Linked DNA regions of Homo sapiens. The protein of the gene in region 1 interacts with the protein of each later gene in a biochemical or structural test. Each region holds a gene or a part of one and is shown in the gene's direction. Other genes may lie near its edges.

Evidence for each region.
Region 2: the proteins of SNTA1 (region 1) and SCN4A interact in a test that uses a peptide from one of them, tested with the Homo sapiens proteins (2 studies listed by BioGRID and IntAct).
Region 3: the proteins of SNTA1 (region 1) and SLC16A7 interact in a test that uses a peptide from one of them, tested with the Homo sapiens proteins (3 studies listed by BioGRID and IntAct, with this or other methods).
Region 4: the proteins of SNTA1 (region 1) and GUCY1A2 interact in a test that uses a peptide from one of them, tested with the Homo sapiens proteins (3 studies listed by BioGRID and IntAct, with this or other methods).

What each region holds. Positions count from the first base shown.
Region 1 is NC_000020.11:33,440,679-33,448,805, reverse strand, and holds the start of SNTA1 (alpha-1-syntrophin), read left to right. Parts: upstream 1-5,042; 5' UTR 5,043-5,185; coding exon 5,186-5,495; intron 5,496-7,493; exon of another isoform or gene 7,494-7,688; intron 7,689-8,127. UniProt on the Homo sapiens protein: Adapter protein that binds to and probably organizes the subcellular localization of a variety of membrane proteins. May link various receptors to the actin cytoskeleton and the extracellular matrix via the dystrophin glycoprotein complex.
Region 2 is NC_000017.11:63,969,862-63,977,012, reverse strand, and holds the start of SCN4A (sodium channel protein type 4 subunit alpha), read left to right. Parts: upstream 1-4,094; 5' UTR 4,095-4,171; coding exon 4,172-4,444; intron 4,445-4,542; coding exon 4,543-4,661; intron 4,662-4,787; coding exon 4,788-4,877; intron 4,878-5,162; coding exon 5,163-5,291; intron 5,292-5,759; coding exon 5,760-5,851; intron 5,852-7,151. UniProt on the Homo sapiens protein: Pore-forming subunit of Nav1.4, a voltage-gated sodium (Nav) channel that directly mediates the depolarizing phase of action potentials in excitable membranes.
Region 3 is NC_000012.12:59,591,139-59,599,306, forward strand, and holds the start of SLC16A7 (monocarboxylate transporter 2), read left to right. Parts: upstream 1-4,890; 5' UTR 4,891-5,098; intron 5,099-8,168. UniProt on the Homo sapiens protein: Proton-coupled monocarboxylate symporter. Catalyzes the rapid transport across the plasma membrane of monocarboxylates such as L-lactate, pyruvate and ketone bodies, acetoacetate, beta-hydroxybutyrate and acetate.
Region 4 is NC_000011.10:107,015,274-107,023,568, reverse strand, and holds the start of GUCY1A2 (guanylate cyclase soluble subunit alpha-2), read left to right. Parts: upstream 1-5,092; 5' UTR 5,093-5,513; coding exon 5,514-5,816; intron 5,817-8,295. UniProt on the Homo sapiens protein: Has guanylyl cyclase on binding to the beta-1 subunit. Isoform 2 acts as a negative regulator of guanylyl cyclase activity as it forms non-functional heterodimers with the beta subunits.

The sequences.
Region 1 (8,127 bases):
GATTAGTTCTAGTTAAAGAAAGAATTAGTAAACTGGAAGATATCACTGAAGAAATTACTCAGAATGCAGTATGGAAAAAAGTAAAGAGAAGATATGAAAGAAAGTTAAGAGACATGGAGATTTGAGTAAGATATTCTAATTTAAGAGATAATTAAAGATTGGGCAAGAGGCATTTGGCCTTCTTTGATAGAAAGCTTTGCCTGCCACCTTCAGGCTGGGTGCAGTGGCTCATGCCTGTAATCCCAGCACTTTGGGAGGCTGAGGCGGGCAGGTTGCCTGAGGTCAGGAGTTTGAAACCAGCCTGGCCAACATGGTGAAATTCCGTTTCTACAAAAATACAAAAATTAGCTGGGCGTGGTGGCATGTGCCTGTAATCCCAGCTACTCTAGAGGCTGAGTTGGAAGAATCGCTTGAACCTGGGAGGCAGAGGTTGCAGTGAGTCAAGATAGTGCCATTGCACTCCAGCCTGGGTGACAGAGTGAGACTCAGTCTCAAAATAAAATAAAATAAAATAAAATAAAAAACTAAATAAAAAGAGGCTGGGTGCGATGGCTCACACCTGTAATTCCAGCACTTTGGGAGGCCGAGGTGGGCGGATCATCTGAGGTCAGGAGTTCAAGACCATCCTGGCCAACGTGGTGAAACCCCCTTTTTTTTTTTTTTTTTGAGACAGAGTCTCACTCTGTCACCCAGGCTGGAGTGCAGTGGTGTGATCTCAGCTCACTGCAACATCTGCCTCCTGGGTTCAAGAGATTCTCCTGCCTCAGCCTTCCAAGAAGGTGGGACTACAGGCGTGTACCAACATGCCTGGCCAATTTTTTGTATTTTTAGTAGAGATGGGGTTTCACTGCAGAAACCCTGTTTTTACTAAAAATACAGAAATTAGCTGGGTGTGATGGCGGGCGCCTGTAATCCCAGCTGCTTGGAAGGCTGAGGCAGGAGAATCGCTTGAACCCGGGAGGCGGAGGTTGCAGTGAGTGGAGATCGCGCCACTGCACCCCATCCTGGGCAATAGGAGTGAAACTCCGTCTTAAAAAAATAATAATAATAAATAAATAAAAAGAAAAATATTTAGCGCTAAATACTTAACAACATAGCAAATAATTTGGGAGAGTAAGTAATTGAAGATAATAGAGTGCTCTTAATACAACTAGAGAATATAACTTCCAAAAGCAGAAGGAGAAATGTCCATTTATGTGATGTTAAAAAATGTAAAACTAAACAGTAGATTGTTTAGGATTTATGCATAGATTTTTTTTTTTTTGAGACGGAGTCTCGCTTTGACACCCAGGCTGAGGTGCAGCAGCACATCTTGGTTCACTGCAAGCTCCGCCTCCCAGGTTCACGCCATTCTCCTGCCTCAGCCTCCTGAGTAGCTGGGACTACAGGCGCCCGCCACCACGCCCTGCTAATTTCTTTTTGTATTTTTAGTAGAGATGGGGTTTCACTGTGTTAGCCAGAATGGTCTTGATCTCCTGACCTCGCGATCCGCCCGCCTCGGCCTCCCAAAGTGCTGGGATTACAGGCATGAGCCACCGTGCCCAGCCAAGTTTTTGTATTTTAGTAGAGACGGGGTTTCACCATGTTGGTCAGGATGGTCTCGATAGCTTGACCTCGTGATCTGCCCACCTCGGCCTCCCAAAGTGCTGGGATTACAGGCTTGAGCCACCGTGCCCAGCTAATTTTCGTATTTTTGTAGAGAATGGGGTTTTACCATGTTGGCCAGGCTGCTGTTGAACTCCTGACCTCAGGTGATCCAGCCGCCTAGGCCTCCTAAAGTGCTGGGATTACAGGTGTGAGCCACCGCGCCTGGCCAGAGCTTGCAGAGACTTTAGTAGGCTGGGCAGCTCCCCTCTCTCCCTTTTTTTCCCCTTCCCCCTCTCCTATTCCTTGGGAGTGAACTGGTTTTCTCTGGGAGCTCTGCCTGGGGCTTGGCAGGGAGCCGGGCCTATGTGTATCTATCTGGGAGGCCAATTTCTGAGCCACAGCAGAGAGGCATCGGCTGACCACAGTGTAGGGATAGAGCATTCCTGCAGCTACAGGGTTCTTGGGGGTAGCTACAGGTGATTGGCACTGCCTATCAAGTGTGATCACAAACACACACACCCATACTCACATACAGACGTATACATATGCATACACACGTCACTGTTTCCTTGGCTCTACATCTTCTTTCTGTGTTAGCCCCTTTGCACACATCACTCCTTTCCCTACTTCCTTCCTTCCTGTTATATCCACAGGAAACTGTCCCCCAGAGGAGAAGCCCTCTCTTAGGGCTCTTTCTCAGTAAGTTTGTCTGGGCCTCATTAAGTCTTTTTTAAGCAGGGCAGTACGTGGGGGGACTTTTAAGGATCTGGTTCCAGGCTTTGGTCTTGGGAAAGGAGCTTCAATTCCCTGCTGGTCTCTTGCCTCCTGCCAGGTCTGTCCTCCCCTCCCTTCTCTACCATTGGAGTGAAGCTTCCACAAGCCAAGTAGGCTGTAGTTATTTATCACAAGTGCTTACCCCAAATTCCTCAGGCTGTCCTACAATCTTTAAGCACAGTCATACTTTTAAGATATCAATGCTTATATACAATGCTATATTCCTTCCCTGCCTCCCTTCTCTCCTTCCTTCCTCTCACTTTCTTTTATTTATTTTTGAGACAGGGTCTTGCTCTGTCACCCAGGCTGGAGTGCAGTGGCATGATTGTGGCTCACAGCAGCAGCCTCAAACAGGCCTCCTGCTGCAGCTTCCTAAGTAGCTGGGAGTACAGGTGCACATTACCACGCTTGGCTAATTTCTTTATTTTGTAGAGATGGAGTCTCGTGAAGTTGCCCAAGTGGTCTCAAACTCCTAGCCTCAAGTGATCATTCCTCCTCGGCATCCCATATATATATGTATAAAAGACCCTGGGTTCTTTTTTTAAAACCTGTGTCTCTCCTGTTTTGACACCTACCACTCTAACTTAAAACAATTCCTTTTTTTTGTTGTTGGTTTTTTTTTTTTTTTTTTTTGAGACGGAGTCTCACCCTATCACCCAGGCTGGAGTGCAGTGGTGCAATCTCTGCTTGCTGCAATCTCCGCCTCCCGGGTTCAAGTGATTCTCCTGCCTCAGCCTCCTGAGTAGCTGGGATTATAGGTGTCTGCCACCACGCCCGGCTAATTTTTTTATATTTTTAGTAGAGATGGGGTTTCACCATGTTGGCCAGGCTGAGTCTCAAACTCCTGACCTCGTGATCTACCTGCCTCGGCCTCCTAAAGTGCTGGGATTACAGGCATGAGCCACCATACCTGGCCCCCTCTTTTTTTTCTTGATGGTATCTTATGTGGAGGATTTTACCCAAAAGTTCAGGGAGGCTAAACACTGGTGTAGTCCTACTTATTTATTGCTCAACATATCCCAGCTAGGAATGGAGGATAGAGACAAGGAGCAGGTATGAAGGCCAGTTGAGCTGTGTGATGTGGTGGATTTTTCAGATTACAATCATGCTTTACCTCTGTATTTGTCAGCTGTCTAGCAGAGTGGTTCAGTGCCCAGGCACTGGTGTCAAACAGGCCTGGGTTTGAATCGCAGCTCTTCCTCACTCATAAATGTGTGACCTAGGCCAATTAGACTAAATCCAAGTTTTCCCTTCTGTATAATAGGGGTGCTCTTTTTTCTTGCTCTGTCACCAAGGCTGGAGTGTGATGGTGCAATCACAGCTCACTGCAGCCTGGACCTCCAAGGCTCAAGCGATCCTGCCACCTCAGCTGTGATTACAGGTGTGAGCCACTGTGCCCAGCTGGGGGTGCTCTTAGCTACTCCAGGAGGCTAATGTAAAGATAACACTTGGAAAATATTCTGCCAGCCCTAGGTAAGAGTAAGCATTCACTAAATGAAAGTGATTATTTCTATAGAATAGGGAGTCACAGTTTACCACGTGTTTTCACATTGATTTAATCCTCACACCAGCCCAGTGAAGTAGGTATTATTATGATCCACATTTTACAGATGAGGAAATTGAGGCCTAGAGCAGTGACGTGAGGGGACCAAAGTCGACTTGGAGCTAACAGAGGCAGCAAAGATTAGAAACCATGTCTCCAGTCGCCCAGACCCAGAGCCCCACCTTGCAACCCTCTTCCCACACACCAGTTCTGTTTTTTTTCTGCCAGGCCTCAAAGTGTGGGACTTCAGGCTTTTCTATACTCGACTGTGAACACAGCCAGGGGTTAATCTCTTAAACTTCCCTCCAGTTTTGAAGTGGGGATCCTGCCCACACCTCCCCCAAGCCCTAAGCGGTGTCGGTAGCGGTCTCCTCCAGGGGGCGGGGCCTGTCATCTTTAGAAGCCACGCCAGCGATAAGCCACGCCCACAGACCAAAGCCTCGACCCCCACCCCCCATCCCCCGCCCTCCCCGATAGGAAACCAACTTCTTCCTCAGCTCCCCAACTAGCAACTGTGCCCGCAAGGTCTCTCGCGGCTCAGCATCTACCTTTTTTTTTTTTTTTTTTTTTTGACACAGGGTTTCGCTCTGTCACCCAGGCTGGAGTGCAGTGGCGCGATCGCGGCTTACTGCAGCCTCGAGCTTCTGGGCTGTCATCTAGGCCTCCCAAAGTGTTGGGATTACAGGCGTGAGCCTCCACGCCCAGACGGTGTCTACCTCTTAAACTCAAGCCTTGGAGTCCAACGCTCTACCATACGCAGCCCAGCCCTCCGCCATATGCAGCCCAGCCCGATGCCCAGTGCTTCGCACCAGGATACGTGGTTCTGTCTCTTTTTCATGCGCTCCCACGTCCGGGAGTTACAGTCCCGGCCCTCGATGGGCATTCCGAGCGCCGAGCCCCCTGCGCGGGCTCACTGGGTTCCGCCCCCGACGCGAAGCCCCGCCCCCTGACGCCCCGCCCAGCACCACGCCTCCCGGGCTTTCGCCTTACTTAGTGGCCCGCCCCGCCGCCCTTCTGACCCACCCCGCTAGGTAGTCCCACACGGCGGCCCTCGGCTCCCGGGCCCCGCCCCGGCCTCCTGCATTTGCCCGAGGCCCCCTCCCCAGCACTGGCCACACCCCAGGGTAGCCCCGCCCCCAGAGCTCCTCCCCCAGCGGCCGGGGTAGGGTGGCGGCTGGCCCAGCCGGGCCCCCGCTGCCCTCTGCCCTGGGCGCTTGGTCGGAGCGGGCTGGGCAAAGCGGGACAGGGCGAGCGCGGCGGCCCGGGGGCTCGGAGGCGAAGATGGCGTCCGGCAGGCGCGCCCCGCGCACCGGGCTGCTGGAGCTGCGCGCCGGGGCGGGCTCGGGGGCCGGCGGCGAGCGATGGCAGCGGGTGCTGCTGAGTCTGGCGGAGGACGTGCTGACCGTGAGCCCCGCCGACGGCGACCCTGGTCCCGAGCCCGGCGCTCCGCGGGAGCAGGAGCCCGCGCAGCTCAACGGCGCCGCGGAGCCGGGCGCCGGGCCCCCGCAGCTGCCAGAGGCGCTACTGCTCCAGCGGCGCCGCGTGACGGTGCGCAAGGCCGACGCCGGTGGGCTGGGCATCAGCATCAAAGGTGGGCGCGGGACACCGAGGGCGCGGGGTCGTGGTGTCTGGGGGCAGCCGAGGGCGCAGGGGGCTGGCAGCGCGCCCAGGACATGGAGCTGGAGGCTTCCTGTCTGGGGGTAAGGGGGGTCTGAGGAAACAGGTAACGGAGGGCACTGGGCACACCAAGGTTGGAGGGGGTTTCAGTAGTTGGTGGCCTTAGGGGGCACGGAAGACACAGGTGTGGATAAGATTGTGGGAGCACCAAGGACACGTGGGTGGGAGTTCTGTGTGGAGGCGGGGGGGTCTGAGGGGTAACCAGCATGAACATCAAGGACAAGAGGGGTCCCCCGGAAAGCAGAGTGTGGAGAAAGGGGGTTGAGGCCGGGACACCAGTGGGACAGGGAGGAGGGAGTCCCTGAGAAGCAACCAAGGTGGGTGCAGAGGGGAAGCCTGGAGTCTGGGAAGCACAGGGGTGGATAGGAGGCCTGGGTGCAGGCACAGGCTGGGGTCACAGGCAGAAGGCCAGCAAGGACCTAGGAATCTAAGGACCCAGGAAGGCTGCAGGGAGCCCTGACAGCTGGATTTGGGTCTCCTGATCTGACTATCTCCACCTTGCACAGGATAGAGCTTTCAGCCCCCAGGACTGACCGCTAGTGGGGTGCAGTTAGGGTGCAACCAGACTGTGTTTGAATCCAGGATCAGCTGTGTGAGGTTGCAAAAGTCCCGTCCCGCCTCTGAATCTGTTTCCTCAACTGTATAAGAGGATGACAGAGTTGTGATGTTTCTGAGAGCAGGGCTCACCACACCAGCACACTGTAGGTGCCTAGTTAATTACTGCTGTTAGCGGAGAGGAAAAATGGAGGCCAGCAGATACTCCCAAAGCAACTAAACATAGTTGTTAAAATCCTTGCACACCCCCAGCTGCTGGGTTCACTATTCCTGCCCATCTGTTTCTCAGGGTCCCAGCCCCCAGCAGGTGCTTTGGGAAAGGGTATCAGCCTTTGTCTCCACCTTGAATACATACCGTACCCTCTGGGGTCTCCCTGGTACTGGTTCTGTTGACTAGTGCCTCCAGACCGTTTGGCTTGGCTGAGGCGGTGGGGATGGTGGTGAATGCCACCACTGTGTGCCAGGTGCTGTGCCCAGGACACTAGTCTCATGATCCACTTCATCCTGGCAACAAGTGGTGAAAGGTAGGGAGTATAATTCCCATATTGCAGGTGAAGAAACTGAGACTCAGAAAGTTAAAATGATTTTCCCACGATTACATAGTGAGTGTCAGTGCTGGGATTTGAACCTTAATTATCAGCTACTGTCCCTCAGAGAGTGCTCAGGGAAGTTGATTCTTTCCTGTAGAAGGGCAGATCCCCAGGCAGCCAACCAAGAGGGGCTAAAAAGGAGAAATGAGAAAATGAGGGTATGGGCACCAGTCTTACCCCCAATCTCCAGCATGGGATAGGGCAACAGATGAATCCAAAAATTATACACTCAGTGTGTCAAAGCAGGAAGGAACTTATTCATACAGAATTCCATTCTGCAGATGGACACACTGAGACTCAGAGAGGAGCAGGGACTTTGCAAGGTCACACAAAGTTACTCCCCAGCTCCATAATTCTAGGTGGAGGGGAGGGTACTTTTAGGAGACTTCAGGTATTTCCATTGGATCCAAATCTGGGCTCCTGTTGCCATGGTAACCCCTCCTATAAAGTCTAGCTTAGTCTGAGGCAGCCATGAGTGATCATAGCTTCAAACTGAACTGAAGCCCCTAGTTTCAGGTGGGGGAGGGCAGATATAAATAGAAACCCCTTCCTCTCCTAGACTTCAAGCTCTGTGCAGATAAGCAAACGGTCGGGCCTGTGTGGGCGTCAAGAGAGGTGTTCCAGTCCCAGCTCCGCCACCAGACTTGTGTGACCTTGGAACAATGACCTCCCACTCTGGGCCACTAATTCTTCATCTTCAGTATTCTGGGGATGAGCCAGGAGTGTGATATCTGAGGGCCTGACTTGTCGTCTGTGGTAGGGCTAATAGTGTTGGTTCTGGAGCCTGGAGGCCTAGGTGCAAATACTGGCTTCGCTACTTACTAGTGGAGTGACCTTGGACAAGGGGCTTCCCTCCACACTTCAGTTTCCCTAATAGGAAACTGAACATACCTATGTGATGGGGTATTGTAAAGACGCAATGAATCAACATTGAAAGCATTTAGCACAGTGCTTGGCATTTGGTAAGTGCAACTAAGGTGAACTCTTATTACTATTTCTTATTTTAAAAGGGCATTTAAGAGTTTGGTAATAAAGATGTTTAGTAAAATGTATTAGCTTCTTTTGTATCCAAGATGCCATTCAGGCAGGTTTTTAGAATCTCTAGACTCTAAGGCTTTGGTTTCCAGCCTGGACTTTGGATTGTAAAACATTATGATTGCTAAAGCAGTCTTTTGAGGCCATAGGAATAGCCGACTTGTCTCTTGATTCCGGTTTGAGGGGTATCAGTGGGTTCCCACATTGTTGCCTTTTTGTGTGTGTGTGTGAGACAGTCTTGCTCTGTTGCCCAGGGTGGAGTGCAGTGGTGCGATCTCGGCTCACTGCAATCTCCACCTCCTGGGTTCAAGCAGTTCTCGTGCCTCAGCCTCCTGAGTAGCTGGAATTATAGGCACACACCGCCAT
Region 2 (7,151 bases), on another chromosome or scaffold:
GGGCTGTGGCCAACTGGGCTGCATGCTTCTGAGAGGCTCTGGGAGCTGAGGACAGAAGCGTGTTCACTGGACTTGGCAGCAGGGAGGGTGTTAGTGACTTGACAAAAGTAGTTTCAGTTGAAGGGGAAACGGAAGCCAGGTTGGAATGGATTGGAGAGAGAATGAAAGGTAAGGAAGTCAAGACAGCTGGTGTAGACACTTTCCAAGAAGTTTTACTGTGAAGAGGAAAGAAAAATAGGGCAATAGATGCAGGGAGGTGTGGGGCCAGGAGAATAGTTTTGTCACCACTGCCATTGTTTTTAAAGTGGGGGACACTAGAGTCTGTTCACAGATGGGGAGAGGTGGATGGGCAGTAGAGAGAGGGCACCTGGAGAGGTCTTTGAGAAGCAAGAGGGGCTGGGGTCCTGAGCCCCAGGAAAGCCTGACCCTTGCTTCTTATTATTATTCTAACAGGATAGAGGAAGACGGGGTGGGATGGGGAGATGGTTCTGTGGATTTGACAGTGTGTGTGTAGTGGTTCTTCCTTCCTCAGGGAAGACCATCAGCTGGGAGGCTCATGGGGAGGAGCGCGGAGGTCTGAGGAAAGAGGAGAAGGCATGAAATAGTTGTTTTCAAAAAGTGGAAAAGTGAGCCTACCAGAAAAATCCACACTACAGGGCTGGCAGGATTGAGGACAAACCCAGAATATGTGACCATGAATTTACGGTGAGCTCAGCCTAGTCATACCATTTCCCCAGCCACATTTCTCCAGCTCGGGGCTGACTTTGGAAAACCAGAGCTGGGGACATGCAGTTAGGGGTTCCCCAGGACTGTGTGATAGAAGGAGAGAGATCCCTCCTTCTGGGATCTCTCCCTGGGAGCTGTGGAGGAGGGACCAGAATGATGATCTTCTAAGTAAGCCTAGATGAGGAGGGACATGAAGTCAGAAGCAGGTGGAAAGGGAGAAAGTGCAGGGTCAAAGAACTGAAAGTGCCCAAAGATTATAGCAACCGGGCCCCTGAGCCAGGAGCTGAGAAGGTGGCAGGGGCAAAGGAAGAGTTTGAAGTGGTGATTTCAGAGGAGATATGGTTTCTGGTTATGATTTAGGTTCAGGGTATGCTTAAAGGAGAAAAGAGCTAAGGTAGAGTGTCCCTGTGATTCACTCACTTATTCATTTGATAAACTTTTATTGAGCTGGTGACACAAACAAGGGGAGAGTTCCACCCAGCCAGGGTACCCAGGGAGGGCTTCCTGGAGGAGGTGGTTCTTGTGTGGGTTGAGTCTAGAAAGATGAATGGAAGCTCTCCAGGGAGACAAAGAAGATGGGTGCTCTGGGAGGAGAGCAAACCACAAGCAAAGGCATGGGGGTTAGGGCAGGGGGGTGGAAAACAGCTTGGCCCATTTGTGAAAATGGAGGTAGCATGGCCAGAGGATGCGGGAAGGGTAGGCAATGAGGCAGGGATCTGATCATGGAGGGCCTTGGGAGCCCTGGGTAGGGCTTAGGACGTACTCCTAAGCAGTGGAAAGCCATTGAAGATTTAAGCAGGGGGTGAAATTTGTGACTTTACAAATATTTATGGCAGTCTAGGGGAGAGCCTGGTGGGAGGTGTTTCTTTGGTTGGTTTTTGAGACAGGGTCTCACTCTGTCACCCAGGCTGGAGGACAGTGGCACCATCATGGCTCACTGCAGCCTCGAACTCCTGAGCTTAAGGGATCCTCCTGCCTTCGTAGCTGGGACTACAGGAGCATGTCACCACGCGGGGAGGTTATTTGAACAGAACAGGTGAGGGGTGGAGGGTGGAGAGGGCAGTGACACTGGAGAGGGAGCATCAGTAGGGTGTGGAACTGGCCAGATCTACCACCATGATGCTTCGGGCAGCCACCAACCAAAGCCAGCTTCAGCAAGTGGAACCAGTGAGGACATTCCTCCCCTCACATTACAAAACAGCCAGACCTCAGGGGTAATGGAGGAGTAGGAGAAGAGGAAATTAGGAGGAAGTGAACATTTTGAAGGGAGAGGTGTACGCTGTGCAAAGAAAACAGGCTGCAGAGCAGGCCCCAGAGAAGAAGCATCTTCCAGGGGCAGGGAAGGGGCAGGTCCCAGAGCAGAGCTGGGGAGAGTGGCCGGACGCACAGGTGATGTCCTGCTCCCAAGAAGAAAGGCGGTGTGCGGTGTGGGAAGCTCAGGAGGGCCAGCGGGGAAGAAAACACTGGATCTGTCCCCTGGGGAGCTCTGGTGACTCAGGTGAGAGTCATTTCCTCGAGTGCTGGGGTTGGGAGCCAGACTATGTGTCTGTGGGCTTTTGTGGCCCTACTTGGGCTCGTGTAATGAAAAGAGTGAGCAGTATCAGGACAGGAGGATCATCACAGCAGGGACTGCAGACTGGGTGGGTGCACAGCAGCCCTGGGGTCTCTTCAAGGCCATCTGGCTGGTTGGCGCCTTCTGTGTAGTGACAAGCAGCATGTGGGGGTGTACGTGGAGTGGGTGATGGGGAGGAAGGTGGCAAGGTATATGACAGAGCTGTGAGATGCAACTGGGAAGGTCTGCATGTGGGGTGGCTCCAGGCCGGGTGTGCGTGCATGTGCCTGTGTGTGCAAGTGTGTGCACATGCACGCCCACGCTCACGACAGGGGCCAGTGAGCAGCTGAGGGCAGGGTTGGCAGGAATAAGCAGAGTCATCCCCGTGGAAACACGACTCCCTGGGTGCTGTAAGGAGCAGCTGGGAGCCAGGCACAAGGGCGTGGCCAGCTCTGCCCAGTGGCTCTGGCCTCTCCCTGGCCACCCTCCCCACCTGTTGAGCAAGCCTGAGAAGCGCCCGTGCTGACCAGGGCAGGGGCGCTGCTGCAAGGGTCAAGGCCCACTGGGAGAGGTCCACCCTCAGGTGTGGCTTTGGGGGTCTCTAGGGGTCTGTCCAGGTCCCTGTGGTGCAGGGGTGGCTCCAGGTCTGTCCATGTGGGTCTGGCAGTGGCTGCCTGCAGCTGGTCTGCAGGGGTCTCACTGCAACTGCCTGCTGATGTGGTCATTCCCCCAGGGCCATTTGCAATAAGTGATCCCCCTTCCCTTCCACAGGAATAGGCTCTGGAGGGCTGGGCAGAAGGGGAGAGGGGCCAGGTGGGGCCCAGACCACACAATGCTCACAGGCATCAAAGGCTCCTTGTGGATGCCCCTTCCCCCAATCCAGCTTGTGCTGGGACCACCAGCCAAAAGCAGTCCCCAGGAGCTCTAGCCCTGCCCCCACCATTGGAGTTGTCCATCTCCTTGTCCCTGTGACCTTCCCTGTACGTCTTCTCTTCCACGTTAGCACCTGCAGCTCTCCAGATGCAATGTTCCTCTCCCAGTTCACCCTGCCTGCCCAGTGGGCTAGAGCCCCCAGGGCTGTGGGAGGGAACTGCTAGGAGACCCCTGCCGGGCCCAGGGCCCTTTCTTCTTCCCTCTCCCAGCCCAACACCAAGTACCCCAAAGATCAGGAAAGAGGAATCCACACCCACCCCCATCTTTCTTTTCCCTTCCCTCCAGGCCAGGGATGGCAAACACAGGCAGAGGCACCACGGTCTTCCTCCTTGCGCCCCTGGCAGACATCACTAATCAATCACAGCAACCTTTTTGCACAGAGCCTGGCTGCCACCTTCATGGTCTCCACCTACATCTCCAGGTGGCCAATATCAGGATCCACGTCGGCCCTCAGGGTGAAGTCCCTGTGCCAGTCCCACTTTGATCTAACCCCCCAACCAGGCCCCTCATCCTGGCCTATCCAGAGGTCGCCTGAGCACAGCCAGCTGTGGTTCTCTCTCTGTCCCATTAGGCTGAAGCCACACAGTTCCCGGAGCTTGGGCCCAGGAGGCAGTCGAAGGCACTGGGGTGTTGACCCCAAGTCCCAAGGCCACAAAGAATCTGGTTGGTTTGCCGTCGGTCCTGAGGGCAGCCGCTGCCACTTCTGGGGAAAGTGTGGTGGGGGGGCCAGGGGTGATGCTCTGTGCCCAGCACCTGTGCAGCAGCAGCACCTTGCAGGCACATCTCCCAGTCCTGATAGAGTCTGCACGCCCACCTCCCCGGCTCGGCCACTGGGCAAGCAGGAGGTGAGGAGTGGACGGCCCGCCCAGGGAGGGGCGGCCGCCCAGCACCCCGGGGCTGCGCACTGCAGCTCCCCAGGCCACCCACCACCCTTCTGGTCTCTGAGCCCAGGATGCGAGGATGGCCAGACCATCTCTGTGCACCCTGGTGCCTCTGGGCCCTGAGTGCTTGCGCCCCTTCACCCGGGAGTCACTGGCAGCCATAGAACAGCGGGCGGTGGAGGAGGAGGCCCGGCTGCAGCGGAATAAGCAGATGGAGATTGAGGAGCCCGAACGGAAGCCACGAAGTGACTTGGAGGCTGGCAAGAACCTACCCATGATCTACGGAGACCCCCCGCCGGAGGTCATCGGCATCCCCCTGGAGGACCTGGATCCCTACTACAGCAATAAGAAGGTCTGGGCCTGGGAAGGCTTCCTCTGTCTGTCTGCCATCCATCCATCTGTCTGCCTGTCTGTCTGTCCCTGGGTCTCACAGCCTCTCTCCCACCTTAGACCTTCATCGTACTCAACAAGGGCAAGGCCATCTTCCGCTTCTCCGCCACACCTGCTCTCTACCTGCTGAGCCCCTTCAGCGTAGTCAGGCGCGGGGCCATCAAGGTGCTCATCCATGCATATCCTGCCCAAGATGGGAGAGGCGGGAGGGGTTAGGGATGGGCGAGATGGGGTGCTGTGGCCCAGGAGACCCTCTATCACCTCCCATCCTAGCTGCTTCCTCACTTTCCTTGACCCTGCCCCACGCTGTTCAGCATGTTCATCATGATCACCATCTTGACCAACTGCGTATTCATGACCATGAGTGACCCGCCTCCCTGGTCCAAGAATGTGGAGTAAGTCTCCCTGCTCCCTGAGCTCCCCAGCCCTGGGACACAGCCCATCTCAGGTGTTTGCACCTCTGTGTGGTGCTGCTCTTGTCTTTCAGGGAGACACACTGTCATTGTGACCCTCATCCACACCTTGAGTCCCTGGGGTGGCCATGCTATCACTCGCTAGTGTCCTTAGCCACCTGAGTGGCATATTTCATTTCTGTGTCCCTCCCTTCTGGGGGTCTGTCGTTGCCACACTGACCCCTACCCAGGTGACATGCCTGTCCCGGCCGGCCCTCTCCCCCCCAGGTACACCTTCACAGGGATCTACACCTTTGAGTCCCTCATCAAGATACTGGCCCGAGGCTTCTGTGTCGACGACTTCACATTCCTCCGGGACCCCTGGAACTGGCTGGACTTCAGTGTCATCATGATGGCGTGAGCAGGGGCCCCAGGACATCCTGAGGCTGGGGTGGGTGAGGGGAGGGGGCCAGGCCTTAAAGAGGGAAGCTGCCTGGGCTGAGGGCTGCAGGGGACATCGGTCAGTTGTGCAGATGGGGAGCTGCACAATTCTAGAAGCTGCCATTCTCAGGGTCTGGCTCAGCACTCTCCTGATGGACTCCTGATAATCACATGAGGCAGCCCTGACCCACAGACCCATGGGTCCTCACCTGCTGGGTGAGCCGGGCTATCTTTGCCATCCCCACTCCCCCAGAGCTCCTGCACTGTCCTTCCCAACCCTTGGGCTCCCAGAGGAGCTTTGGGGGTGTCTGCCCTGCCCCCCAGACCCTGTGGTACCCCCAATTTCTTGGGAATCCTCATCCCAGGCCTGGAGGAGCCCTGATTTCTGTCCTACCACCCACCCCAGGCTCTGACAGTCCCCACCCCCCTCCACCCCCTACCCAGGTACCTGACAGAGTTTGTGGACTTGGGCAACATCTCAGCCCTGAGGACCTTCCGGGTGCTGCGGGCCCTCAAAACCATCACGGTCATCCCAGGTACTGGGGAGGTGCAGGGACCCTCTGCCTGAGCTGAGAGACCCCCGTACCATGTGCAGGCCTGGAACCTGACTCAGTGTCACAACACTCCCAGGCTGGTGTTTTTGTAGAACTCACAGCAAAGCCTGGACATACAGGGGCCCACGTGACCAGAGGGCAGATGGGGTCCTACATGGAAGGATGGGCGTTTGAGAGGCAGCATGGCAAGTTGGTTAAGAGCACAGACTCAGCTGGGCATGGTGGCTCACGCCTATAATCCCAGCACTTTGGGAGGCCAAGGCAAGTGGATCAACTAAGGTCAGGAGTTTGAGACCAGCCTGGCCAACAAGACAAAACCCTGTCTCTACTAAAAATACAAAAATTAGCCTGGCATGGTGGTGTGCACCTGTAGTCCCATCTACTCAGGAGGCTGAGGCAGGAGAATCACTTGAACCTGGGAAACAGAGGTGGCAGTCAGCCGAGATCACGCCACTGCACTCCAGCCTAGGCAACACAGTGAGATTCCATCTCAAAAAAAAAAAAGAAAACAAATTAGCTGGGCCTGGTTATGCTCTCCTATAGTCCCAGCTACTTGGGAGGCTAAGGCGGGAGGATAGTTTGAGCCCAGGAGATCAAGCCTGCTATGAGCTGTAATTTTGCCACTGCACTCCAGCCTGGGAAAAAGAACAAGACTCTGTCTCAAAAGAAAAAAGCACAGATTCTGGAGCCTGACTGCCTGGGTTCAATTCTCACCTTTACCACTTCCTAACTTTAACTTTGGGCAAGTGCCTCGCCCTGTCCATGTCTCAGTTTCCTTATCTGTGGCATATGGAGACTCATAGTACCACTCCTTGGATTGTTGTAAGGATTAAATGCCTTAATATCTGTAAGGCCCTCACAGCCCCTGGCCCATGGTTTGTGATATACACGTGTGTGCTCAATAAAATAAGCAGACAGAGCAGAGAAGAGAGAGACACAAAAAGGCTCCATGAGGAAAAGTCCAAGCTCTGAGAGCTCAATTAGGAACACACCAGGCACCTGCTGAGCAATAAGGTCAGAGCAATTCCAAAGTAATGCATCAACAAGCATGAAATCAATAGAATCCGAACATTCAGACCTGCAAAAGAGCATGTGGAGAAACTGGAGATTCTCTCCCAGTAAAGGAGAGAAAGAAAAAGGATAGAGATCAGGCTCTGGGAAGAGGGAAAATTGTTAAATCCTAATATGAGAAAGTACCTGAGGCCAGGTGTGGTGGCCCATACCTGTAATCCCAGCACTTTGGGAGGCCGAGACAGGTGAATCACTTGGGGTCAGGACTCTG
Region 3 (8,168 bases), on another chromosome or scaffold:
GCAAGTATCATTGAATTGTAGAAAGTGAAGCTATTAATAATTATTAAGATCTTAAAGTAAAAACATATGACTCAGAGAGGTTAAGGAACCCAGCAAAGATCAACTGTACAGAAAAAGGCACTAAAGCCTTAGCTTCTTGATAACACATTCAGTCATCATTGATTCATTTCATAAAATATATTAATACTCATTAGCCACCGTTTACAAGATTTCTGCCTGAAAAGTTTACAGTCTATGATGATAACTTTTAATTTAAGTTTCTAATCTTATATGCATTCAAAATAATCAGAATATTTACGTGGTAAAGCATCTATAAAACACCCAGAATCCATTAAGTTTAGTTTACAGATAATAATTGATAAAATGTAAATTTAGAAAAATACCCCAACAAACAAGTTTTTTAATACATAATCCGTTAAGAGATTTTTGGAGCCAAAAAACCCATTTTGTTTTAAACCAAAGATTCTTGTGTGCTATTATTTAAAGGCATACCATACAGCAATGCCAATGCAATTGATTCCCCTTTTATATGCTTTGTTGAATCGGACTAGATTGTCATTCCCCAAAATCCTATGGGAGTTTTTCATAGAAGATATTTCCAAAGTAGCCTATATAGATATACGCAAGATTTAAATCTAGAAGTAGTGGAGATATATTTCTATAGTTTGTATAATCTGTGAAACCAGGTCACAGCAATCATATTCACAGCTGCTAGCCAGCTACAATCTCAACCATAGTATGTTGCCACTTGAAGGCAGGTGTACATTTGTTTTCACCCAAGTTGAGGGGAGCATTGGGACATCTGGTCTTTTGTACTTAGCTATAACAAATCTATTGTGTGTAGTTTATAAACACACACACCCTTAATTTAATCTCACAGTCTTACTCTGAAAAGGCTATTATATGAATTTTGGGGTCATGAGACTATATTTTTAGTTTTGACTTAAGGACACATTAGTGCACTTTCAAAAGTTCAATGTTTCATTGGGGATTTTATGCCTTTATGATTTACAATTTCTTTTTTCGAGACGGAATTTTGCTCTTGCTGCCCAGGCTGGAGTGCAGTGTTGCGATCTTGGCTCACTGCAACCTCTGCCTCCCGGATTCAAGCGATTCTTCTGCCTCAGCCTCCCGAAGTACCTGGGATTACAGGTGCCCACCACCTCACCTGGCTAATTTTTTTTTTTTTTTTTTGTATTTTTAGTTGAGATGGGTTTTCACCATGTTGGCTAGGCTAGTCTTGAACTTCTGACCTCAGGTGATCTACCTGCCTTGGCCTCCCAAAGTGCTGGGATTACAAGCATGAGCCACCACGCCTGGCTGACTTATTGTCTTTTTCAGTAATATCTTATATTGGTCAGAATAGGCTAGGTTTTGTTCCCATGACAAATAGAGCCTGAAATTTCCAAGGCTTAAAACAATGGTCTCTTGCTCACACAAAGTACAGTGCAATTCAAGCAGTCTTTCTTTCTTTTTCAGAGATTCCATTTTGTAGCTAGTTCATCAGAAACATGGTACTATGGCAGGGAAAGGGAGTGATGAAGGAGGTACACTGGGTCTTAACTCCCTTTACCAGAAATTACACATGTCACTTCCATTCATACTGTTTTAGAACTACATAGTTGCATGGTCCCAATATAACTGTAAGGAAAGCCAGGAAGTGTGGAGCCAGGCAGATCATAGATATTGTGAGCACCAATAGCTTCTACCACATATCTGTTGCCTACAGCCACACTGTCATCTCTTTTCTTCATTTGGCAAACGTTACTATTTTCTATCTGCAACGATTTGTGCTGCATGATAGATGATTCTGTTACCCGAAAGGGGTACTGATTCAGACCCCAAGAGAGGGTTCTTGGATTTCATGCAAGAAATAATTTGGGATGAGTCTATAAATGAAAGCAGGAGTACTAGGAAAGTAAAGGAACAAAAAAATGGCTACACCATAGGCAGAGTAGCAGCATGGGCTGCTCCGCTGCTTATACTTATTATTACCTCTTGATTATATGTTAACAAGAGATGGATTATTCATGAGTTTTCTGGGAAAGGGGTGGGAAATTCTGGGAACTGAGGGTTTCTCCCCATTTTAGACCATATGGGGTAACTTCCTGACCTTACCATGGCATTTGTAAACTGTCATGGCACTGGTGGGAATGTCTTTTAGCATGCTAATGCATTGTAATTAGCACATAATGAGGAGTGAGGAGGACCAGAGGTCACTTTCGTCTCCATTTTGGTTTTGGTGGGTTTTAGCTGGCTTCTTTACTGCCGCCTGTTTTATCAGCATGGTCTTTATGACCTGTATCTTGTGCCAACCTCCTATCTTATTCTGTGACTAAGAATGCCTTAATCTCCTGGGAATGCAGCCCAATAAGTCTCAGCCTCATTTTACCCAGGCCTTACTCAAGATGGAGTCACTCTGGTTCAAATGCCTGTGACAATCCCAGAGATGAATAAAATGTCATCTCTACTTTCAAATAGCCTAATATATTGGGGCTACAGAAACAAAAATCATATTATAATATAGTCATATGTGAAGCTGAAACAAAATGCCCCAGATAGAGGCCTAAATCATTTTCTATGGGCAGGATCACAGAGAAAGATGAACTTAACCCTTATTTGTTAACAAAGAATCCTTAAAATGCTATAGAAGTGATGATATATTTGCTGGGCATTAAAGGAGGAAAAAAGGTTTAGACAAGTTTGATATGGAAAAGAGGGCAGTGAATGATAAAAGACAGAAAAATGTGAGAAGATTGTGTATGACTGAGGAATGAAGAAGGGAGAAAGAACCTAAACCACAAGGATGTGGGTATATAGTAAAAGACATGTGGACTTCATGAGTATATATGTGATGTACGTATTCACAGTTTGCTCATCTGTGGAATATGAGTTGCTAGAATGCTAAGTGTATTGCTATTTGTTTTTCCCACTGTTATTTCAGCTTATGAATATAAATCAAGGCAAACATTTTACCAGAGCATTCCAAGTTCTAATCATATGGCTTATTTTTTCCCTAAATTGTATTTTTTTCTCAATTTCTTAACAATATTAAACTGTAAGTCATAGGATAAACTGGCTGAATTTATTCTTAGCTGATTCTCCCTCCTTTCAGATACCTTTCTAGTCCAATCAAATTTTACATAACATACCTAGCTATCACAACAAAGCAATTTAGAAATGAGTTCCCAAATACTAACTCTGTGACAGTAGGTAAATTAGATCCAGAGTTTTAATTGTTGAAAAAACAAGACTTAAAAAGAAGGTTACGATATCATGCTATAAGTAGTGATGTTTGGCATTCAGCAATAGGTTAAACAGGTCAAGAACATGGGACTATAAGAAAAAAACAACAAAAAAGAAAAATCAAAGAGAAGGAAAAGGGAGAATAGGATCAAAATTCAGAAAGCATATGGTCTTTCTTCTTCCTCTTCTTTGACAGGAAATAAAAGTGATGAATGAGCAGGAAAAATATCAATAGCAAACACTCAAGACTATGACCTTGAAATGTGCCTTTATGTTGTTTCTTTTAAATGTTTAACTTTTTTTAATTAAATGAAGTGTTTATAGTCACTGCTAGACATTTCATCATTATCAAAGGCCTATTATGTCTTATACAAATGTCTATTTAAGCATTTTTAGCTTAAAAATATAAAATCCTTTCTGTAATTTTCTGCCTTTTTTTCATTTTCAAATATCATTCTTTCAATAAAATTATCTTCCAGTAATTTTGATGTTATTAATCACGATTATTTTTTCATCTTGTATTATGCCTACCAGCCACTTCATGTATATTATTTCACTTAAATCTTATGAAATCAACACGATTGATATTACTTTTATTTCATAGCTACAGAAATTGAAATTCAAATTTCGTCCATTACAACAGACTAGCTGTGGCAAAGACAATGTGAATTTACCCAAATGACTTAACTCTTTTTATAAATTCGTAAAATGTGAAGAATCATAGAACACACCTTAAAATGATTGTGAAATCAAGGAGGAGAAAGCTAGCTAAACTGGTAGACAAACTGCAATAGGACTTGTCAAGCCAAAACCTACAATTATTCTTTTGGATAGTTTCTTTTTCTCTAAAGTGGCAATTTAACTTAAAGATATTAAAGAAACCCAATCTATGGGGTTACTTAAATGTTCTCTTCCAGCCCTTCCTCTTTCCAGTTTTACCAAGAAGCACATTTTAGACAGGGGAAGAGACCAAACCAATGACAGCAGAATTACCATTATCTCTAGCACTATTCGTTGTCAAATAACTAAATGCTGGTTTGAAGAACTAAGTAATTTGAGAAATTAAAAATGAAAGGAATTATAAATGATTTGAAAAAAAATCCTTCTTATTTTTAATGTTTTTTGGTGCTGTTTTCTATGTCCTTCCTCCTATGGTGTCAATTATATTTTTTTCCGTGAAGTGATTTGGTTGGTGAGTCTAATCTCCAACAGTGCCCTACCTCTTTCTCCCAAAAAGGCCTCAGTTGAAAAATGGCTCAACACTTTCCCTGCAAGCTCACAATGAGGATCTCCTATTCTCCCTGCATTCGGCCAGACTCTTCTTTTTTTGCATGCTTTCCTCTCCCATGCTTGGGTTGCACAGAGCTACCGCACATCTGTCTTCTAGGTCAGGCTACAGAGTACTTCGGATACAGCAAGTTACGACCCATCTGGAAAGACAGATCTACCTGCCTTTTGGCTTTCTTCCTTGGTCAAAACTAAAATCCGAAGTGGAGTGCCCCGAGCGATAGAGAAAGTGCCTATAGCTTTGACAGCCGCTTGGAGCATGCTCAGTCGGTCTCCAGGCACCGGGAGGCGGCTCCCCCCCACCACCCCCCGGGCCGGCCTCCACCGCAGCCTGTCCGGCCCCCACCCCTGGCGCGCGCTCCTCCGCACCCACAAGGGCGTTCAGCAGCCGCGCCTCCCCTTCCCGCCACCGCCTCCTTCTCCGCTGGCTGTGGCGGGCGAGGACACGTCAGGGGCCATAAATAAATAAATAATTCCATTCACCCGTTGACAGCGAGGCGAATCGGCTGCGGTTTGCTGGGAACGGAGGGCTGCAGCGCCCACCCTGCGCCAGAGACCAGATAAAGTAAGTACAGCTGGGGAGGGAGGGGAGAGGAGGAGGAGGAGGAGGAGGTGCCGGCTAAGAGGAGGGCGAGCCTGCGTCTGCGACCCGAGCTGCCCGCGGAGCCGCACGCGTGTGTGCAAATAATGGCCAGCCTGTGACAAACGTGCCAACGCAGAGTTGGCCAGCGAGCCCTTATATAGACAAAAAAATCCCGAAGCGGCCGCGGGAGCAGAGCTCGCGTCAGCCAGTGCGCGCCGACAGCTGCCCGGGAACTGAGGGGGCGCGCGGGGTCCTGGGCAAGGAGCGCCTCGCGTGCTTTCGGCCAGGAGGTGCTCACGCTCTCGGCTTTTACACCGAGACTCAGCGTGGCGCGGTGCACCCCAGTCTCCCTGGCTCACGGGACTCCGAGGGCTGCTTCCAGTGCGGCGTGTCTCTAGTGCGCGCCCCGCCAGCATCCGGCCCCCGAGCCCCCTAGGGTGGCGTGGCTTCATTGCCGCAGAAGGTGGAGGCGGGGGTGGAGTGTGTGGAGAGAACGTCTTCTCTTTGAGCAGATGATCAGGACAGGAAGAGGCTGTGAGGGGAAGACGAAATACCGGGGGATGGGGGGGTTGTCTTTCTTCATTTTTGGTCCCCAGGAAGGATGGCAGGGGTGGAAGCAGATGGAAAACTATATGCGGGCGAGGCCTGAGCCCAGGCAGAAAGGGACCTCTGACTTGGCAAGGGTTCAGGAGGGCCTGAGCCTTCTGGTCTTGCTGGGCCACTGCACCACATTGGGGGCGCCAGGCCCGGTCAGGTGGCGCCACAGGCTGCGAGCCCGCTCACGTGCGAACTGCCTGTTTTCTCAGCGGATGCTGCATCGCGGCGCCCTTCTCCACCCCCTTTTCTCCTCTACTTCCGCGAAAAGGATTGCAGACTGCCTTGGAAAGGGCGGTCGTGCCCAGTGCCACTTTCCCGGTAGGGCTGAGGAGGGACTTCTGTAGTTCCAATTCCAGGGAAATTAAAATTTTACACACACACACACACACACACACACACACACACACACACACACACACGAGACATAGAAGAGGAAACGAGGAGTGGTTTCTCTACAATTGTTTTTTGATTTCCTTTCCTGTATTATTTCGTGTCCTCCTTCCCTCTTGGGTCCCAAAGGAGATGCGGCAGAGGAATAAAATAGCGGACAATGATGAAAGTGATGGGAAAAAGACTGGACCCAGAGGAAAGAGTGACTACTGGATGCCATTTCCTGTCACCCCATGCTTCATGGCTAACCCCAGTCTGAACTCAGAGGGTTGCAAACTTTCCACAGACAGGTTAGCTTGAATGTGTTGTGTTACTGGAACCACAAGCACTAAGTATGCATTTGGTGGAGTGTGGCTGAAAAATGAGAGTTGGGTGGGGACAGCAGAGGGCAAATGAGGGTTGAGCAAAGTGACTAATATTTAGCTCTGGTGAAGCAATCCTAACTCCAGGTTCTACTTCTGACTGAGCAGATTACATTTAAAGCAATCCAAGTGAGGGACTGAATGATCTCAGTGGAAAGGAAAGATTACAACCGTAAGAAACTCAGTGTATTGTGTAACAACTTACAAACTCAGAAACTATTTTTTGCAAATACAACAACAGTTTGCAGTTACATATTACTTTTTTCCCCCCAAGGCATGTTTGAATAATAAGTGATCTGAAATTTTAACATCTGTTTCCCGATGTTCAAATTAGTGTATCCTTCTATAAATGCTCAGTTTATTTCTAGACATTCATTTGCTCTTTGATAATGTCTGGCTTATATTTTTGGCTTTGAGCTCTTTTAAAGGGAAGGAGAGCAACATTACCTAAATAAACCTCCCTTGTCTGGAGTCATATTCCTGGATCACGGATCTGAAATAAAAGGCATCTCCAGAATTTGCTTTTAATTCTGTATTCATCCACCAAACATTTTTGAGACATTCACATGGAAAAAGGGAATTAACTTTAGAACAGATTGGTTCTGCACTTTTGTAAGGTTGAGTAATTGTTTAACAATCTGGGCTTTACCTTTTTCTTGTCTATAAAATGAGATTGGTGGTACCCACTCTGAAGTGATATTGGGAAGAATGAAGTGTGTGGTAAGTACCTAGAATACAGACGGGCTATATTTGAGCCCCTATAATCAGTCTAGACACCCTACCAGGGTTGCCAAGATGAATGAGGCTGTAATTCTGCTTTCAAGAAGTTCTCATATAGTCAGTCATTCAGGTTAATCTTTCTTGTATCCCATTTGCCTTTTAGTCCATTTTTTTTCTCCTCTTGATGGAAGAAACATATATCCAAGTAACTTGAAAGGAACTCCACAGTTGTAAGAAATGTTGGTAAGATCTGCTAAAAGGCAAATTTGAGAAGAATGTCTTTTCTCAGGAACCTGTATTCAGCCCATTTTTTGTCCATTAATAGTGATCCTTAATGAATAAAAACAGGTAATGAAGGATTTTTCTTCATGTTATGAGGGCAGGATGATCCTTCTCTGAAGATTATCTTTGTCAATGAATTGATTTCCATTATTTGAGAGAAGAGTTTGAGTTGCAGTTTCTACTACACCTTGGGCAAACCAATCCACTCACTCCTAAGAGTATAAAGTAACTGTAGTATATAATAACTATAATGACAACTCTGTAATGCTCACCATATTCCAGGCACTGTGCTACTACTGTCTGATAGCATGTAGCAACCATTTGAGGTGGATCTGTCCATATCCATATTTACAGAAAAAAGAATTTATGCCCAGAAAGTTTCATAGCTTATTCAGCTGGTACAGTTAGTAAGTGGTTGAGCTGGGGCAAGCACCGATGCGATCTGTTTGGCTTTAACCACTGTGTCATATAGCTTCTGCCTTGCATGAAGCTAAATAAGAGCAAAGACCTTACCTGTTGTTTTCTCCATAGCCCAGTACAGTGTCTGGCATGTCATGGTTCAGAACAACTGATTATAGAAAGAAGGAAAGAGGGAGGGAAGCAGAACTAGAGGGAAGGAGGAAGAGGAGGAAATAAAAATTAGCAAGTCCAAGTGTCTCCCGCCTTCAACACTGAATCTGGCAGGAAATCCAGCATGAACT
Region 4 (8,295 bases), on another chromosome or scaffold:
TCTTATTGATAATTCATACTTATTATTGTTAGCTGTCAAGCTTAATAAGCTGCAGACAGGAAGATATAATTCCTTTATATAATACAATAAAGCAGACAGAAGAATTAGGTTATGAAAAGACAGAGAGATAGTGAGCATCTAACCAAATAGGATTCAGTTGAAAAATTTTTTTTTATCCATTTAATTCCATGGACCATGTTCATGGCAGTTTTGTATCAGGAGAGGATCTTGGGTGGTTTAAGGAGGGATCTGTATAAGAATTGAATTCTCAGAAAGGATATGACAGGGAAGAAAAAGAGAATCTAACCTTATGATGATGTATGTGGGTACATTTTTTAGGCACAAGATATATCTGGAAAGGAAATGAACAGTTCAACAAATAGAAAAATTACAGAATTTTGAGGATTGATGATAACCTAAGGATTTTATCCAACACTTTTGATTTAGAGGTGAAGGGTTTGAGTCCCAGAGCAGTTAACAACTTGATTTTGGTCACAGAGCTAGTTATCAGCAGAGAACTGTAGAACTTCTGCACATGTCAGTGCTTTTCCACATTATGTTCCAGGACATAATTCATACAAGTTAATTGTGTATTTAATATTTATTTTAATGCAATAACCCACTCACATTGTGATTTTAATTCAGCATATTTTAAAATCTGTTTTTAGGACATTTGAGGACAAGAGACAGGCAGGAAAAGTGTTTCAGTGGAAATAGCATGGGCTTAGTAGTCAGGATTGGAATTCTGACTTTAATATTTATCAGCTCCATGACATTGGAAGATATTTTAAATCTCTGTGCCAGAATTTCCATAACTTTATAATTGGAAAAATATGTCCTATTATGTTGGGATTAAGAATCCCAATTTAAATAAAGTGTATAGAGACCTGGGATTGTTGAGTATGCAGACAAAAAGGCTGAGAGTTGTAGGAGACTGTGGTGCTGATATTAGTATTCAAACTGTTGACTAATAGGGTCTCTTCTTAAGAGGAGGATGGATTCCTGTGGTGCATGGTTGAATGTAAAGCCACTTAAGGAGAGAGTAGTGTCTGCCAGAGGCACCAACATACACTGATCACCTGCCTCTTTCTTGCTGTCATGGATTTGATGCATCAAAAAAAAGTCAGTTATTACACCCTTAAGTATCTTTCTGGGTCACAAATTCTACTAAGTGTAGCATTGACTTTGTTGCTTGTCTTTCTTTCTTTCCTCCTTTCCCCCAGCCTTCTCCTCCTCTATCCTTTTTTGAGCAGCAAGAATCCTACCCCTTTGGGATGGTTTTATGATAAAATATAACTATAGGACAATGGATTACATTGTCTTCTATGTGTCCCTTTATATGTGAACACAGCAGATGGTTCTTCTCACTTTGATATTATCCTTAATATTTAGTTTTACTTACAAAATTGTGCAACAATATGAAGTACAGTATCTCTTATTTGCTGCCAGTCTTTCTCAGAGAAAGCACATTTGCCCTCCTTAATATTTAGTTTTACTTACAAAATTGTGCAACAATATGAAGTACAGTATCTCTTATTTGCTGCCAGTATTTCTCAGAGAAAGCACATTTGCCCTCTTGTAAAAGAGGGGGTATGTTAAGTGTGAGAGAGTAGACAGATCTCATTCACGAACACAAACATAGGGTTAAACTAGCAGGTGAACAGTGTGAAGTGTGTGTGTGTGTATGTGTGTGTGATTTTCCAGGTTAGGGATCCAGAAAAACTTGCCCTAGTTAAGGATTCACCAGCTACTATATTTCTTTAGAAAACTTGCTTTAATATTACATGTACAATTCCTGTGAATTGCCAGATTTATGTAAAGAATGACAGGGAGAAATTCTTCAGTCTTCTATCAGGATAGAGCTCTGCTCCAGGGAACGCTTATGCAAATCTTGCAGATTTTCTTGCTGGAGTGTTAGATGAAAAGAAACTAGTAAAGAGTTTGAACCTGGGAAACGCAAAGAATTTTGGGAAGGAGGACTGATTGTGGTTTTGATTTGAATTTGACACACGTGACTTTTCTTCAACAACTTCTCTGAGAAGGATGAAAATCAGGTTAAATGAGGCTATATAAGTGAAAGGGTTTATAAATAGGATTGATTTATGTGAAGGGAAGGCACGCACAAACAATAGTTACTTTATGTTTCAATGTAAAATAGTCATCGTCTTGACTAAAGTGAAGAATCTGTTTTTTTAGGAAGTCTTTCCCAATGCTTGATCAATCTGAGTTGTCAGGTGCCTACGCCAACTTCACAAATAAACCAAGAATATTTCTGCATTTTTCTTTTCCAGTTGGAGAGTGGCCTTTAAATACTTTATTGAAATACAATATATCCAGCAGGGCTGGATTTGTGGGTATGAGCTTGGGCAAGCTTCTTTTCCTAAAATCAGAGCACAGACTATTCATTCTCAGCAGACTACTCTTCCTAAAGTATTTAGATTGCTTTTGCTAACTGTAAGCCTTCTTCTTCTTCTTTTTTTTTAATGGAGAATAGCTATGCTTCATTTTAAAAATGTCAATTCTAGTATAAACACAGCACTCTTCATATTGAGAGCTTTTGAACCCCGCTCCTGAACAGAAATACAAAGGAAACCCTTGAAAGCAAAGCAGATGTTGTACTGGCTATATCTAGGCCTTGATTTGTTTATAGTTTAAAAATCCATGGGAAAATAATGATCAAAGGCAGGGTGTAATTCATAGAGAAAATTGTAAGACGACTTCATCTGGCTAGATTCTGTAAAGAGTCTTTGATTCAAATGGTTCACACAAAGAAAAAATGTCCCATAGGTTCAGAGTTCTTTCTGGCAATAAACTTCCAGTGTAAACAGGAAGGCTCTTGGGCCTCTTACAAATTTTAGAAACAAATGATACTCATTGCCTTGCACTCAATAATTTTGACTTTGAGACAAGAGTTGGAATGGTTAATAAAAAGTTCCAATTCTAAGTTCAATATGAAGTTTATTTGCCGTTACCATAATATTTATTTGTGTGCGCAGCAGTTTATTGAAAGAATGTGAAGGACACATGCTATTTAGTATATTTAATACTAACTAAAATCCTATAATTCGAAAGAACTTGACTATTATATAATCAGTACCAAAGAAGAGAACTAGGAACTCCAATCCTTTATGCTGATTGATACTGTGTAGCAGAAATATTAAACAATTACCCCAAAGTTAGAATAATGTAATTTTCATTATAATTTAGAAAAAGGGGCTAGTGAAACTTTTTTAGCAAAACTGATGATTTTTTATGATTAAAAGTGTAATTTGAGTCTAATTTTCAATGGACACAAATGCACATAGAATTAATTGAAGTAATGGGGAAATCAATAGTAGATGCACAACAGTTTAAATAATAATTGTAACAATTATTATTTTAAAAGAAACTTCCTCAGGATGAGAAAGAATACATATATATAAGAATATATATTATATATATTCTTTCTCATATGTATATGTATATACATATACATATATATACACACACATATATATATATATATATATATATATATAATTTGAAGGGGGAGTGTCTGAGTGATAGTACACACTTTTCTATCTTTAAAGCCCATTTAAGATCTGGGGAAAAAGGTATGTCTCTGAACCAGTTTGAGTGGATTTTTCCAAATGAAACCTCAAATAGCATTTATATTTAAGCCCTAACAAACACTTGGGAAGATTTGAAGTTAAAAGCAAATTGTGGTGGGGGTACAGCACAGGTTTTGTGGTTTGGTTTTGTTTTGCTTTTTAAATAAACACAGTCCACAAAAACCCATCTGCCTTCACCTGGAAGGACCAGTTCTTTAATTAAAAAAACGCTTTGGCTTCGGTTTCACTGGGAAACTAAAGCCAGAGCCCCTAAACTTTTCTCTCCGCAGATCGGGTGAGCTGGGGAGGGTGCTCATCCACTTCATTGCAGGGGGAAGTACAGCCTGGAACCCCTTTCGGGATACTGTCATTTGCCCCTTCTTCCCATCTCTTACTCTATCCTCAGAACCAGTATGAGAGTTTTCTGGGGCTAAGGCAAGGGGCAGTGGGGTCAGGCGCTGGAAGGACTGGTTTGCAAAGAGATAAGCTTTGGAATGAAGCCGCACAGCTGAAAACTCGCGGCAAGACATGCTCGCGCTGTGGCGAGTCAGTTCGAGAAGCATTTATCCCTACTCCCCTTAGCTTTCTGAGCAGCATTTGCAGTCAGGTGCAAACAGATCGCATATTTGGCGCAAAGAGCCCTGAGGATGAGGGACGTGGGATCATTCCCCGGTTTCCCCCGGGCCAGGTGCTAGGTCGTTTGAGGAGGAACTGTTCTCCAGTTCTCAACGCCTGCAAAGGCGGCTATAGGTGGCAAGCGGAGCTGTCCAGCACTAGTGAGGAGCCAGCGGAGCCGGGAGCCCCGCGCACCCCGCCCGGCTGAGGCTCAGCAACAGTGCTGTCTTGTCAGAGCAGACGCTGTCCTCACTGCCGCCCCTTTCTGGGCTCGCTCCGCGCCCACACGGCCTCGCACGAGGCGGGGAACACAAGTCCCCAGGAGCTGCTCCAGCAGGATGGGCGCCAAAATGTTGCCCCTGTCCTTCCCTTCCCCTGAAAGCGTCTCCTCTGGAGTGGGCTGGCTGGACGCTTGGCCTTTCCCTTTTGCCTCGGAACTTCCTAAATAAACTCGGAGAAAGGACAACATGGACCCTAACCCCCACTTCACACTGTCAGGTTTCCCCAAGGTGGCTCCAGGGGGAGGCCTCTCGCCCCCCAGCCCCGAGCCCTTCTCCCCACCAGCGCCGCCGGGACCCATCTGCTCCCGAGGGCCGAGGATAAGGCGTTTGGGGTTGGGGCCCTCAGTCCGACCCGAGCTCCTGTGCGCACCTCCTCGGAGCAGGGAGGGCGCGCAGAGGACAGCAACGAAGTGTCCTCGTTGCTCCTGAAACGTGGCGACAGGCGAGGCAGAGACTCCCAATGAGTATGATGGCGACACGTGATTCCCGCGGAGGGAGAGCATGGGGGGGGGCGGGGGGATAAAGGGAGAAGGAGGGAGGCAGGGCAGCAAGTGGAGAGAGGCGGGAGCAGAGAGGGAAAGGGGGCGAGATAGGCGCGCAGGCGGCAGAAGCCTCTGCCTCTGCCTCCCCTTCTGCTTGGGCCGCAGCCCTCCCCGCCCCGCCGACCGCGGTCACACACTCTCGGAGCCTCCCCGTGAGCGGGAGCGCGGCGCACGGCGATGCGCCGAGGCGGGCGCTGAGGCGGCGCCGCGCGAGCAGCAGCAGAGGCGGCGGCGGCCCCCAGCCCAGCCCGGCGCCGCCGCCGAGCCCGGGCCCCAAGGTGCGGCGGCGCCCCAAGTTCCCGCCATGAGCAGCCGGCTCGGGGGGCTCCGCGGCCCCGGGGACTCCCGCCCCGCCGGGCGCGACCGCAGCGCCCCGCGGCCCCGACGCGCTTAACGTTGTCGCTTGCCGGTCCCGCCACCGCCGCCTCCGCCGCCGCTCGCGTCCTCGCCGCCACCGCCTCGGCCGCTGCAGCTCCGCCGGCAGCATGTCTCGAAGGAAGATTTCGTCCGAGTCCTTCAGCTCCCTGGGCTCCGACTACCTGGAGACCAGCCCGGAGGAGGAGGGGGAGTGCCCCCTGTCTAGGCTCTGCTGGAATGGCAGCCGGAGCCCGCCCGGGCCGCTGGAGCCCAGCCCGGCCGCAGCTGCCGCTGCCGCCGCCCCGGCCCCGACCCCGGCTGCTTCTGCCGCCGCCGCCGCTGCCACTGCCGGGGCCAGGAGGGTGCAGCGCCGGAGGCGGGTCAACCTGGACTCGCTGGGCGAGAGCATCAGCCGCCTGACGGCGCCCTCGGTGAGCGGGGGGCGGAAGGGGGGACCGCCTTCGGGGGAGAGAACGCGGATCTGTAAAGTTGGCGCTGGGCGAGCCGGGGCGCGAGCGCAGAGCCCGACCGCTGGGGGGCGGCCCGGCCTTACCCTGCACGGCCTAGGGTTCCAGTGGCTCCGGCGACAGAGGATCCCCTAGGCTAGGGCGGAAGAGGGGACTACAGCACTGGGAAGGAATAAGATTCCACTCCTTTGGGGTATCCTGATTCGGGGGCCTGTCTGCCCACCTCTAGCCTTGAACCCTACTTCACCACTGTTCCCCCTGGACAGCCCCAGTGCTGCTTCACACCCACCTGTTTTCTTTCCCCTAAACTTTCCCAGGCACTGTGTTCTGCAGTTCAGCTTCCCTGTCTTTCATCCTGTTCTCCAGCATCCCAAAGGAGCCCCAACCCCTTCCAGGAAACCCTTCCTCTCCTTATTTCCCACACTCTCTTGGTCTTAGCGTGACCTTCTCTGACATCTTTGAATTCCACAGGCTATCTGCATTCTATGTTGCATCCTTTTTCTCACATCTTCAGATACTTTTTGCCAGATACTTTTCTGAGTTGCCTTCTGTTCAAGTAATCTCTAATCTCGAGTTGTCCTCACCCCGTAGCTTTTTTTCTTTTTCTTTCTTATCCACTAGGCATTTATTCTTCTCTGGGTAAACCTGGTGTCTGGATTTCTTTTTTTTTAAATTAAATTTAATTTAAAGTCCCGGGTTACATGTGCAGGATGTGCAGATTTGTTACATAGGTACCAAACGTGTGCCATGGTGGTTTGCTGCACCTACTAACTCATCACCTAGGTATTAAGCTTCGCATGCATTAGCTATTTAAACCGCTCTGTACTTCTTGCACCTGTACCTCATCCTTTACTCTCTCCTCAATGGATTCTCTAGTGCTTTCTCTCTCACATTAGCTATTTAAACCTCTCTGTACTTCTTGCACCTGTACCTCATCCTTTACTCTCTCCTCAATGGATTCTCTAGTGCTTTCTCTCTCACATTAGCTATTTAAACCGCTCTGTACTTCTTGCACCTGCACCTCATCCTTTACTCTCTCTTCAATTGATTCTCTAGTGCTTTCTCTCTCATTTTTTGGTGGCTTCTTTATATTAGGCCCTTCCTAAATATTTGTGGAATGAATAAATGCCTCTCCAAACTTGTGGTCATCTTGGGATGTCTGTATCAGCAGTTTCAGGTGTACAACAAACTCCCCCTGGTTGTAGGCATCCTTCCAGAGGAGTACTGCCTTATTCCTGCCCAGGCATTTCAGCTACCCTTGGCTTTTACCTCTTGCAGGAATGCCAGACCTCTGATCCAATCTTACCGTGTCTGGGAGAGCTCTGTTTTAAAGAAATCCACTCTGTTGCAGACAGAATTTGAAAAAGATTCAGCGTCAAACCTCCACCCATCTTTTATGCTCACCCTGACCTTGGATACAAGAGCTTTAGCTCCTCCTGACAGCACTTTCACCTGCCCACCCCTAGGACTTTTACTTTTTTAAAGTTTCCGAAATGAATCTGAACACTGATCTTGTTTGATTACTGTTGAGTCTCTCTTTTGAGATTACTACTGCAAATGATGGTAGGGGGGACCTAAGAAGGAGTGGAACCCTGAGGGGACTGAGTACGGGTACCAGACAGGTCTACAAATATTCTTGTGGCACTTGTATTAATGGAGAATGATTTTTTTCTTTTACGAGACCTGATTGAAGATGTATAAATCACTTATTACATTATTTATTTTGAACTAATTTAATTCTTAGGAACACATATTGAGAAACAGTCATCTTCCTATTCTTGTGTATTTTCGTATTTGATATATCTTTCTGCCACTTTTTCTTTCATCATTAACCTAGAAAACAATCCTCAGAATAGATTGGCTACTCTTTGCTGTTCTTCCCTGCCAATATTTCCCAGGCAGCGTAATTTTATAAACTATTTGATGTTGCAAATTGTTGAAAATATTTATTTACAACAGGAGTCCAATGACCCCGAGCGTCTGTAGGCTTGTGTCAGTACTTAAAGCAACATTTGTGCAATAAAATAGTTATTTAGTACAACAGATTCTTATTTAATGAAATGATTTTGCTAAAGATAATGATTAGTTTGGGGAGAATTGTTGATATAACCTTGGAGGTTTTTTTTTTTTTTTTTTTTTTTTTTTTTTTTTTTTTGCCTAAGAGAATTTACAGATTTCTAAAAAGTAATGTCAATGCCTCTGATAATGCTAATTTAAGCTAAGACTATTTTCAACAACTTACATGAGGAGTAGATAAAAGAAACTGAGAAATGCAGTATTTTCTGCTAGAATAAGAGGAAGGAAATAGTCTCTGATGGTTACTTTTATAAGTTAAATTTGAATGACTGGCTTTTTGCTGGATGAAAAGAATGTATCCAGAGAATGGTTTTCAGAATAAGCAATTTAAAAATAATTGTGATGATCAAATAAATGCAACAGCTCT